Homo sapiens: one gene and its partners. The gene in region 3 interacts genetically with the main gene of each other region. Each region holds a gene or a part of one and is shown on either strand. Other genes may lie near its edges. The genes, in order: XRN2, OGFOD1 and EXOSC9.

Region 1 (3,737 bases), on a different chromosome or scaffold from region 3:
TACACATTCCCAGCTGGCAACAAATGAGGACACGCAGCCTTCTGCTTTCAGCCCTTGCACAGAGATGACCAGAGGGGGAAACTGTAGGGAGCAGCACAGTGTAGCGTAGTGTGTTAACTTACACCAAATTTGGCCTGAGGATGGCTCCTTACTGATTCTTCACTTGAAGAACTGCAATATTACTTACATAAAGTCCACTAAGGAAAAGCCTAACTTAGGAGCATACTTCTGTAACAAAAAGCAGAGTCTCCGCCAATCGCAGCAGTCGAGCTTCAGTCAATCACAGGTTGCCAACTTATCTGGCCATGTTTAAATAAGCCAAAAGATTAAGCTGTTTCTGTACCTCACTTCTGTTTTCAAGAGCTCCCCAAACCTCTTCTGGTTCTGAGGGCCACTCAACTGGCAAACTGTTCATTGCTCAATTGAACTGTGTTATTTAATTTATCTAGGGCCCAGGCATGGTGGCTCACGCCTCTAATCCCAGCACTTTGGGAGGCTGAGGCAGGCGGATCGCCTGAGGTCAGGAGTTCAAGACCAGCTTAGCCAACGTGGTGAAACCTCTACTAAAAATACAAAAATTAGCCAGGCGTCATGGTGCACACTGGTTGTCCCAGTTATTTGGGAGGCTGAGGAAGAATGGCTTGAACCCAGGAGGCAGAGGTTGCAGTGAGCAGAGATTGCACCACTGCACTCCAGCCTGGGCAACAGAGCAAGACTCTGTCTTCAAAAAAAAAAAAAAAAAAAAAAAATCTTGGGGTTTGGTTTTAACAAGAAGCTCTGGCTCTCTAGAGTTTAGGCATTTAAGTCATTTTCCGATGGTCAGAAAGCTGATAAATGGAGGACTGCATGAGCCAAGCAGTTAAAGTATATGAAGTGAAGAAGCTGATGACTGAATCAGTAAAGAGTTCTTAATAAGTGAGCAAAGGGAATAAAATGAAATCATAAAAACACAACCTAAGGCCGGGCACGGTGGCTCACACCTGTAATTCCAGGAAGTCAGGAGATAGAGACCATCCTGGCTAACACGGTGAAACCCTGTCTCTACTAAAAAAAAATAAATAAATACAAAAACTTAGCTGGGCATGGTGGCAGGCGCCTGTAGTCCCAGCTACTCGGGAGGCTGAGGCAGGAGAATGGCGTGAGCCTGGGAGGCAGAGCTTGCAGTGAGCTGAGATCGCGCCACTGCACTCCAGCCTGGGCAACACAGTGAAACTCCTCTCAAAAAGACAAAAAAAAACACAACCTAAAAGAAGGCATAAGACTTAAGAAACTGAAACAATGAACAGATGAGACAGAAAACAAATAGTAAGATGACAGATTTAAATCTAACCATATCAATAATCTTTTTTTGTCTTTTGAGACAGAGGCTCGCTCTGTCGCCCAGGCTGGAGTGCAGTGGAACAATCTCAGCTCACTACAATCTCAGTATCCCAGGATCAAGTGATTTTGTGCCTCAGCCTCCTGAGTAGCTGGGTTTATAGGTGTTGTACCACTATGCCCAGCTAATTTTTTTTTGTTACTTTTTTAGTAGAGACGAGGTTTCACCATGTTGTCCAGGCTGCTCTCGAACTCCTGGCCTCAAATGATCCATCTTCCTTGGCCTCCCAAAGTGCTGGGATTGCAGGCGTGAGCCAACATGCCTGGCCATCAATAATCATTTTAAATATAAATGTTCTAAATGGCCCAATTACAAAGCAGACTAGAAAAACAGTTTGGTGGTTCCTCAAAATGCTAAACACAGAATTACATGATCCAATGATTCCACTCACAGGTACATACTCAAAAGAACTGAAAGCAGGGACTAAAAAAGATACTTGTACACCAATGTGCATAGCAGTGTTATTCATAATAGACTAAAGGTAGAACCAGCCAAAGTGTCCAGAGTGTGACATATACTCCCATATACAATGGGAGTATCATTCAGCTTTAAAAAGGAATGAAATTCTGAGACATGCAACAACATGGACAAACCTTGAAAACACTATGTTAAGAGAAATAAGCCAGACACAAAAGGAAAAATATTATGATTTCATTTACATAAGGTAACTAGAATAGGCAAATTTATAAAGATAGAAAGTGGGGAGGGGGACAAGGAGTTACTGTTTAACAGGTAGCGTTTCTGTTTGGGATGATAAAATTGTTCTGGAAATAGACATTGGTGACAGTTGCACAACAATTTGAACATACTTGGTTCCATTGAATTGTACACTTTAAAACAGTCAAAATGGTAATTTTATGTATGTTTTATCCCAATAAAAAGAGGGGGCAGAGATTCTCAAACTGTATAAAAAAGCCAGACCCGGACAGGCGCAGTGGCTCACGCCTGTAATCCCAGCACTCTGGGAGGCAGAGGCGGGCAGATCACGAGGTCAGGAGATCAAGACCATCCTGGCTAACACAGTGAATGAAACCCCATCTCTACTAAAAAAAAACAAAAAAATTTGCCGGGCGTGGTGGCGGGCGCCTGTAGTCCCAGCTACTCGGAAGGCTGAGACAGGAGAATGGCATGAAACCGGGTGGCGGAGCTTGCAGTGAGCCGAGATCGCGCCACTACACTCCAGCCTGGGCGACACAGCAAGACTCCATCTCAAAAAAAATAAAAAATAAAAAATAAAAATAAAAAAAAGCCAGACCCAATTGTTATGTTACCTACAAAAACGTCCACTTTAAACATAAAGATGCAAACAGGCTAAAATAAAAGAATAGAAAAAAACACACCATGCTGACACTAGTCAGAATAACTGGCTGTATTAATGACAAATAAAATAGATTTCTGAGCAAATATTAACCAAGAATAATGAAGGTCATTTCATAATAAGTGTATTATCCACCAAAAAACTAGAACAATGTTAAGCATTTATGCACCTAATAAAAGAGCTTCAAAATACACAACCAAAAACCAATAGAACTGAAAGGAGAAACAGAAAAATCCAAAAGTTATAGTCAAAATTTCACAGCAGCAGAAAATGTATCCTTTTCAAATACACATAAAACATTTATAGAGACCATATTCTGAACCAGTCTGATAAACTTCAACAGACCTCAAATTAAATATGATCTCTGATAAGGGAATTAAATTAAAAATCACGAACAGGAAAAAATACCTGGAAAATCTCCCATGTGTGTGAAAATTAAGTCACACTCTTAAATAACCAGCGGGCCAAAGGGAGTTTTAGAACATATTTTTAAGTGGATGAAAATGAAAATACAACATGTTAATATTTGTGGCACACTGTTTAAACAATATCTAGAAGGCAATTTATGGCACTCAAGATCTATATCAGAGAGGAAGAAATGTCTCAAAACAATGACCTCAGCTTCTACCTTAATAAACAAGGAAGAGAAAAAACAAGTTAAACCCAAAGTAAGCATAACAAATACATATAAGAGCAGAATCAAAGAAATAGAAAACAGAAAAACAATAAAGAAAATCAATGAAACCAAAAGCTAGTTATCTGAGAACAGTGTAGCCAGACTGATAATGGGACAAAACAAAGAAAGTAGAATTACAAGTATCAGGAATGAAAGAGGTAACATCACTACAGATTCTAACAATATTAAAAGGATAATAACAAGTTAACAGGAAGAAAAAAGAAAACAAAAGAGAAGTAAAAACAGGAGTGAAAACATTTTAATAACAAAAAAAAAAGGATAGTAAGAAAATACTATGAACAACTTTATGTCAGCCAATTCAACTACTTAGATCAGGGGTGTCCAATCTTTTGGCTTCCCTGGGC
Region 2 (3,500 bases), on a different chromosome or scaffold from region 3:
TATTCCAGCCTGGGCAACAGAGTGAGAGACAGTCTAAAAAAAAAAAAAAAGAAATACATTCCAAATGTAAATGTATGTGTGTGCATCCACATGTGTATATACATGTATACAGATATTCACCACCTCTTCAAACTGAAGGGGTCTGGGAGCAGTGACACCCTAATAGCAAAGACACTTAAGAGTCCAGATCTTGATTGTTAAGTATCTTTCTTCACTAAAAGGAACCAGGATTCTTTGGAAGAATGGCCAACTCCAGGTCATTCTAGGACGTTGGCATGGAAAATACAAAGATAAGCTTGGAAAATCTTGTTTTGCAGAAAGTAGGAAAAAAAAAAGAATGATGGGGACATAGCAAAAGAACGCAGAAGTCAGTTTGACGGGGTTCTCCTTGATAAATCAGGGACAGTATGAGCATCAATATAATGATAGTAACTGGTAACAGCTCATTACACAACCAGCAATCCATAAATCCATACCAATATAAACGAATGAATAAATAAATCAGGAGAAAGGTCTTCTCTAGAGTGGAATGACAATAAATGTAGAGAAATGATTGTGTTATAAAATCACCATCTGGCAACCTTCATGGTAATAATTTAGCAAGAAACATCAGAGAATGCTAAAATAAGCAAATCGAACTTTGATGAGAAATGGGATATTTACATAATCTTAAAGTATCTCCCCACAAAATATATACTGATAGGGAAAAAGAACAGTGGAAAAACCTGATGTCAGCCACCACATTAATCAAGTGATCCAAGTTCATATCACTAATAATGTGACACACTGAAACCATGCACCACCTGATACAGTGAAAAGAATACAGGATTAATTTCTGTAATCCTGCCAAAAATATATGGCCTGAATCTAATCATGAGAAAACATCAGACAATCCCAAACTGAAGCAAGTTTTCCAAAATAACTCATCTGTACATCTTCAAAAGCATAAAGATCATGAAAGTCCAGGAAAGATGGAGGGGCTGTTCTAGATTGAGGGAGGCTGAAGAGACAATATTATAACTAAATGCAACATGCAATCCTGGACTGGGTCCTTTTGCTATAAAGGACCAAATAATGAAACCTGAATGGAGCCTGAGGATTAGATAATCCATTGATGTGGAATAAGGCATCAACGTAAATTTCCTGATTCTGATGGTTTATGATTATCATGTAGGAGAATGTCCTTGTAGAAATTACTGAAGTATTCAGGGGTCATAGAACATCATGCCAACAACTTACTCTCAAGTAAAATAGGAAAAAATAAATTATTTGTACTATGCTTGCCACTTTTCTGCAAGTTTGAAATTACTTCAAAGTAAAAAAAAAAAAAAAATACTGGCATGGTAGCTCACACCTGTAATCCCACTATTTTGGGAGGCAAAGGCAGGCGGATCACTTGAGGTCAGGAGTTTGAGACCAGCCTAGCCAACTGGTGAAACTCCATCTCTACTAAAAATACAAAAATTAGCCAGGCATTGTGGCATATGCCTGTAATCCCAGATACTCAGGAGGCTGAGGCAGGAGAATCACTTGAACCCGGGAGGTGGAGGATGCAGTGGGCCGAGATCACGCCACTGCATTCCAGCCTGGACAACAGAGGGAGACTCCGTCTCAAAACGAACCAACGAACCAACAAACCAAAAAAAAAAAAAAAAAAAAAAAAAAAAAACCCAAAAAAGAAATGACATGGCAGTAAATGAAGATACATGATATGGCTTTTCCTATGTATCACCAAGTCATCCTCTAAAAGTTGTGAGCCATCTATACTTCCAGGACAGTGTATGAGAGTACACTCAAAGAATTATTTTATTTAGTAAAATTTAAAAAAGAAAAAACCTTTTCCTTCTGGGTGAAAAACCAAGCTTGTATCCAAAAAAACCATTTATATGCTCAGAAAGAGAAATGGAAGGATGCACCCCAAACTGGTGACAATAGGTACCTCTGAAGAGAAGAGGGAGCAGGGAGAAGGTGAAGAAGGCTATCATGGTTTACACCATATACCTGCAATATTGTTTGATTTTTTTTCCTTTAAGAATGCATTCACTTATTGCCTTCAAAATAAAAAAGAGAAGGGAGAATGGCATTGAAGGAGATGGTTGTTCCTTAGGAAGTCTAAGAATAGAGTTTATATATCACTCTGAATTTCTTGATATTGTATGTACAGTTGGTGTGTATGTATGTTATGGGGATTTTGCTGAAAATATGGTCAGTAGCTTTCATCATATTCTGAAAGACAACCACTGCTTATGCCTTCCAATAAGGTGGGTATTTCTGTCTATGAACTGGGTCTTTATCAGGAAGATCCGGATGCTTTGCAGGGACATTCAGTTGAGTGTTTTGGTACACAGATACCATCTCTCCATTAATGCTGAGTTAAAGCCTTTATATCTTACAGACACCAGGCCTTTATCTTCCTTACCAGTGAATTCATATTTAGCACAGGACATGTCAATGGTTGATTCCAGGTCAATTTTAGAAATATCAGAAAGCCAGGACCGGAAATCTTCAAACAGAATTTTCCTAGAAATGTAAACAAAAGATAACTTGTTATGCCACAGTGTGGGATCTAGGTCACAACTGTTTGGATCTAGGCCACAACTTTTCTTTCCTGGAGATCACATTGTATTCAAGAGATCCATTCTCCGATCTCATTTGAGACATTCTGAGAAATGTTTCTCAGTTCAAATTTGCATAGTTTAAGTCTAATGTTCCCAGAAAAATAAATGTAAGTCTCTACCTACATTATATTTGTTATTTTTTGTTCTAATGGTTCATGTTTTCTCAGTATTTTCTTTCTCCTAAATTTAAAGTATGCCCTGTCATGGCAGCAGTTTGGCCTTTGTCATAACAACTCATCACACCAGTGGTCTAGTCCAAGTTACTGATTTTCAGACAAGTTTTTCAGCACTAAAATGGAAAGCTCAACTGTTTTTCTTTTCTTTTCTTTCTTTTTTTTTTTTTGAGATAGAGTCTTGCTCTGTTGCCCAGGTTGGGGTACAGCAGTGTGATCTTGGCTCATTGCAACCTCTGCCTCCTGGGTTCAAGTGATTCTCCTGCCTCAGTCTCCCGAGTAGCTGGGACTACAGGGATGCACCAGCACGCCCGGCTAATTTTTATATTTTTAGTAGAGATGGGGTTTTGTCATGTTGGCCAGGCTGGTCTCCAACTCCTGACCTCAAGTGATCCGCCTGCCTCGGCCTCCAGTGCTGGGATTATAGGCATGAGCCACAGCACCTGGCCTCAACTGTTTTTCTTTACACACTTTACTTCACTTCCAATGCCAAATGTGTGGGCTTATCCCCCCACACTGACCAATTCTCTGACACCAGCTGAGTGTCTTAAAATTCAATTCAATTCTGACACTATCTACCAGGCATTAATAAAGGTTAAGGGCTTAGTCCCATGAGACTGCCCCCAGTGTGCCCTCTCCCCCAACCCCACTTCAGATACTGATTACAAGTTCAAGTTGTGACCCATATGCTTCTAACCAAACAGTTATA
Region 3 (3,336 bases):
CCTTAAAACCCACCCACATACATACACACACACAAAATTTTTTTAATTAAAAATATCACTATCATTTATGCCAGTGTTCCACTACTCTACAAAGATATGCATATTCTTTTAGAAAGTAGCATTAGTATTGCAGCTAGCCACAATAATTTAGTTGAAATTTAAATCACAATATTTAGCCCCTCTAAAAATGCAATACTTACATCCCTATATATAACTACATATCTATATTCTCTCTATATAGTATCCTGTATGTTATTTATCCACTATACATCTCTATATAGCTAATATGCTATATATTACTATATACAGTGATAATATAAATATACACACATTTTATGCATTATATATATAACTATACGGTAATACTATATGTATGTAATATATAGTAAGTGTGCCATAAAGTGTCACCTACCTTGGCTTCCAATATCAGAGACTTCTACTCCAGTGTCCATTTTTATACCATCAAGAATGATAGCTTGATCACCACCGCCTTCATCATCTTCCTTCTCAGAGTCTTCAAGATCACCCCAGGAGTTTTCTACTCCCTCTCCAATTTGGGCAGTTCCAGGAGTCCATAGCACAGGTGTAGAAACACTTAACAAGTTAAGAAAACTGAGTAACAAAAATATTGCTATTTGATGAACTGTTGAAGATGAGAATGAAAGTTTTCTTCTTGTAAGATTGATTCAAGTGTGCCCCAAGTTCCTAGGGGAAAAAAAACTTAATATAGCTACACTATGGATGGCTGAACAATGAAGAAGAAAAAAAACTCAGGCAAGATTTTATGGATGCAATTAATAAGAAATGTGAAGAGACAGATTCTCTCAACATTTTAGTTATAGTACTAAATTAAATTGGTCCTTAAAATCTGTTTTTTCCAGGATAACTGAATAGAAGCTGAATGTTATACCATCAACAGAATATGACTCACATCTCTATCTTGTATTTTAAGTGTTTTCTCTAACAAAGTACAGTGTTTACAAAAACTAATTTCAGTATACACATCCTTCATATAGCCTAATATTATAATGCCAAGTGTTATGAATCTTGTTACTGCAAAAACCACCAAATAAAGATACACTTCTGAAGGAGGTTCTGCTTCAGCAATGATTTCTTCTGCTTTTTCTTCTACATCCGAGGTATCAATAGGGGCCTTTTCCATTTTAAATGCTGTGATCCTTTGATTTGCTATAGACTCTGCAAAACCAAACTTTCCACCTTCTTTCCTGTATGTGGGGGTTTTTTTGGTGGGAAGGAAGGGGGAGGAAGGTAACAGATTGGATAGAAGACAGGAAGGGAAAAAAACTATTATTTTATCCTTTGGTGGATGAAAAATATTGGAAGAGAGTTAGTTTATCTAACTTAACCTCACCAATTTATTATGCCTAACAAGAGTAAATAGTTAGCATAATCATTTATTAAACCACGTGCCAGACCATGTGCTAGGTGCTTAAAATATACTATTCTCTAACCCTCAAATCAGCCCTACCAGGTAGTGTTAATATCCCATATTATAGAAGAGGACACTGAAATGCTGGGTTATGTATCTTGCTTAAGATAGCACAGTAAGAGGTAGAGATGGAAATCAACCTGTTTCCTTCCATTAATTTGAGTTACTAGATTATTTTTATCCTAAGAAAATGTTAACTGCTAAAGAAAAATCTTATGTCTCCAGGCACGGTGGCTCACACCTGTAATCCTAATATTTTGGGAGGCCCAGGCGGGTGGATCACCTGAGGTCAGGAGTTTGAGACCGGCCTGGCCAAAACGGCGAAACCCCATCCCTACTAAAAATATAAAAATTAGCCGGGCATGGTGGTATGCATCTGTAATCTCAGCTATTTGGGAGGCTGAGGCAGGAGAATCACTTGAAGCCATGAGGCGGAGGCTGCAGTGAGCTGAGATTGCACAAATGCACTATAGCCTAGGTGACAGAGTGAGAAGTGAGACTTCATCTCAAAAAACAAACAAAAATCTTATATGATTTTTCAATATAGGTTACATTTAAATTGCAGAAAATATAACAAGTCCAATTTTCTAAAAACACATTAAATAGTATACTCAATTCAGATTAACAAATAAGGAAAGATCAAGTGTGAAATTTATATGGTTGCCCTCGTTCAAGGAAGATCCTTAAGAAAAAAAATATATTAAAAGACCATTTAGGGCCATTTCCTGTTCCCTGTGTTGTATCTTGGAGTCTGGATTAATGAAGACCTCTTGCTCTTAGGAGGGTCTTTCCTCTTTATTGTTTTAGAATTCTGGACTTGACCCAGACTTAAATTCCCATCTGTGATGCATTTTGCAATAAGTGGGTTTGATGCCAGCACTTTGAAAGATATCCCTCATAAAACAAAAGGACAAGAATCACCAGCTCCCACACAAAGTAAAAAACGTGAACCTAATTTTAGCAGTGTTAATAAGGAGCAACTATCCACAAGTCACTGCATCAATAATGCTTGTGTTATAACATCCTCTCCTCCCTAAGGCACAGGAGCAAGTGACACATACTTGTCTGGGAACCAGTTTCATTAATACTTTTATTGTATCCGTCCAAAGATGAGTAGCAATATCTGTTACCAGTTTCACTACCTTTCGGAGTTTTGGGTAACATAACTATACCATGGTATTTACACTTTTTAATGAGTCAATTTTAATTGAAATTGCCATTCTAACTTTGTATGTGAAATCAAGTTCATGCATAATAAAGCTTGCTTATACTAAAAAAAATAATAAAAATTTAAAAAATGAAAATAAAAGACCACTTAGTTCTGGAAAAGTTACTTACCTTACTTTTTGGTCATTCTCCAAAGCTTTCAATATTAGCTCTGTAATTTCTGCTACTTTCACACCAGCGATTTTACTGCATCTCAGAACCTATTTATAAAAGTGAATTCTGTTGTTTAAAGACAATAAACCAAATAGTTTTCTCTAATGAAACTAAAACCATGAAATTTTTCTACCTTTATAATTTAAGCCTGACTTTTCCAAACATGAATACAATGTAAACACAGATTAAGGCAAGATGTGAAAGTTGTTTTAAGATATGTGAAGGACTGTCACATCAAGGGAACAGACATAAAAACTTTCTTATACAACAGTATAAAAGATACCACAGAAGAGGCCACAGACACATATATGCTCCAGGATGCACTAACTTCCTTTTTCTGTGGGTAATCTGGGTAGTACTTGTGATGCTGGTAAAGATGATGATGATGATACCAGAAACTAACATTTATTGCACACTTAATAAATGTGTGCTAGACACTGTGCAATATATTTATATCCTTATAACAACAAGGTGTTGGCAATAACATCATTCCCTATTTTACAGAT

Evidence for each region.
Region 1: changes in EXOSC9 (region 3) and XRN2 together harm fitness more than expected from each alone (negative genetic interaction), as found in Homo sapiens cells (one large-scale study listed by BioGRID).
Region 2: changes in EXOSC9 (region 3) and OGFOD1 together harm fitness less than expected from each alone (positive genetic interaction), as found in Homo sapiens cells (one large-scale study listed by BioGRID).

What each region holds. Positions count from the first base shown.
Region 1 is NC_000020.11:21,309,615-21,313,351, reverse strand, and holds part of XRN2 (5'-3' exoribonuclease 2), read right to left. Parts: intron 1-3,737. UniProt on the Homo sapiens protein: Possesses 5'->3' exoribonuclease activity. May promote the termination of transcription by RNA polymerase II.
Region 2 is NC_000016.10:56,461,554-56,465,053, reverse strand, and holds part of OGFOD1 (prolyl 3-hydroxylase OGFOD1), read right to left. Parts: intron 2,521-3,500; coding exon 2,420-2,520; intron 1-2,419.
Region 3 is NC_000004.12:121,811,124-121,814,459, reverse strand, and holds part of EXOSC9 (exosome complex component RRP45), read right to left. Parts: intron 2,878-3,336; coding exon 2,789-2,877; intron 1,227-2,788; coding exon 1,080-1,226; intron 595-1,079; coding exon 413-594; intron 1-412. UniProt on the Homo sapiens protein: Non-catalytic component of the RNA exosome complex which has 3'->5' exoribonuclease activity and participates in a multitude of cellular RNA processing and degradation events.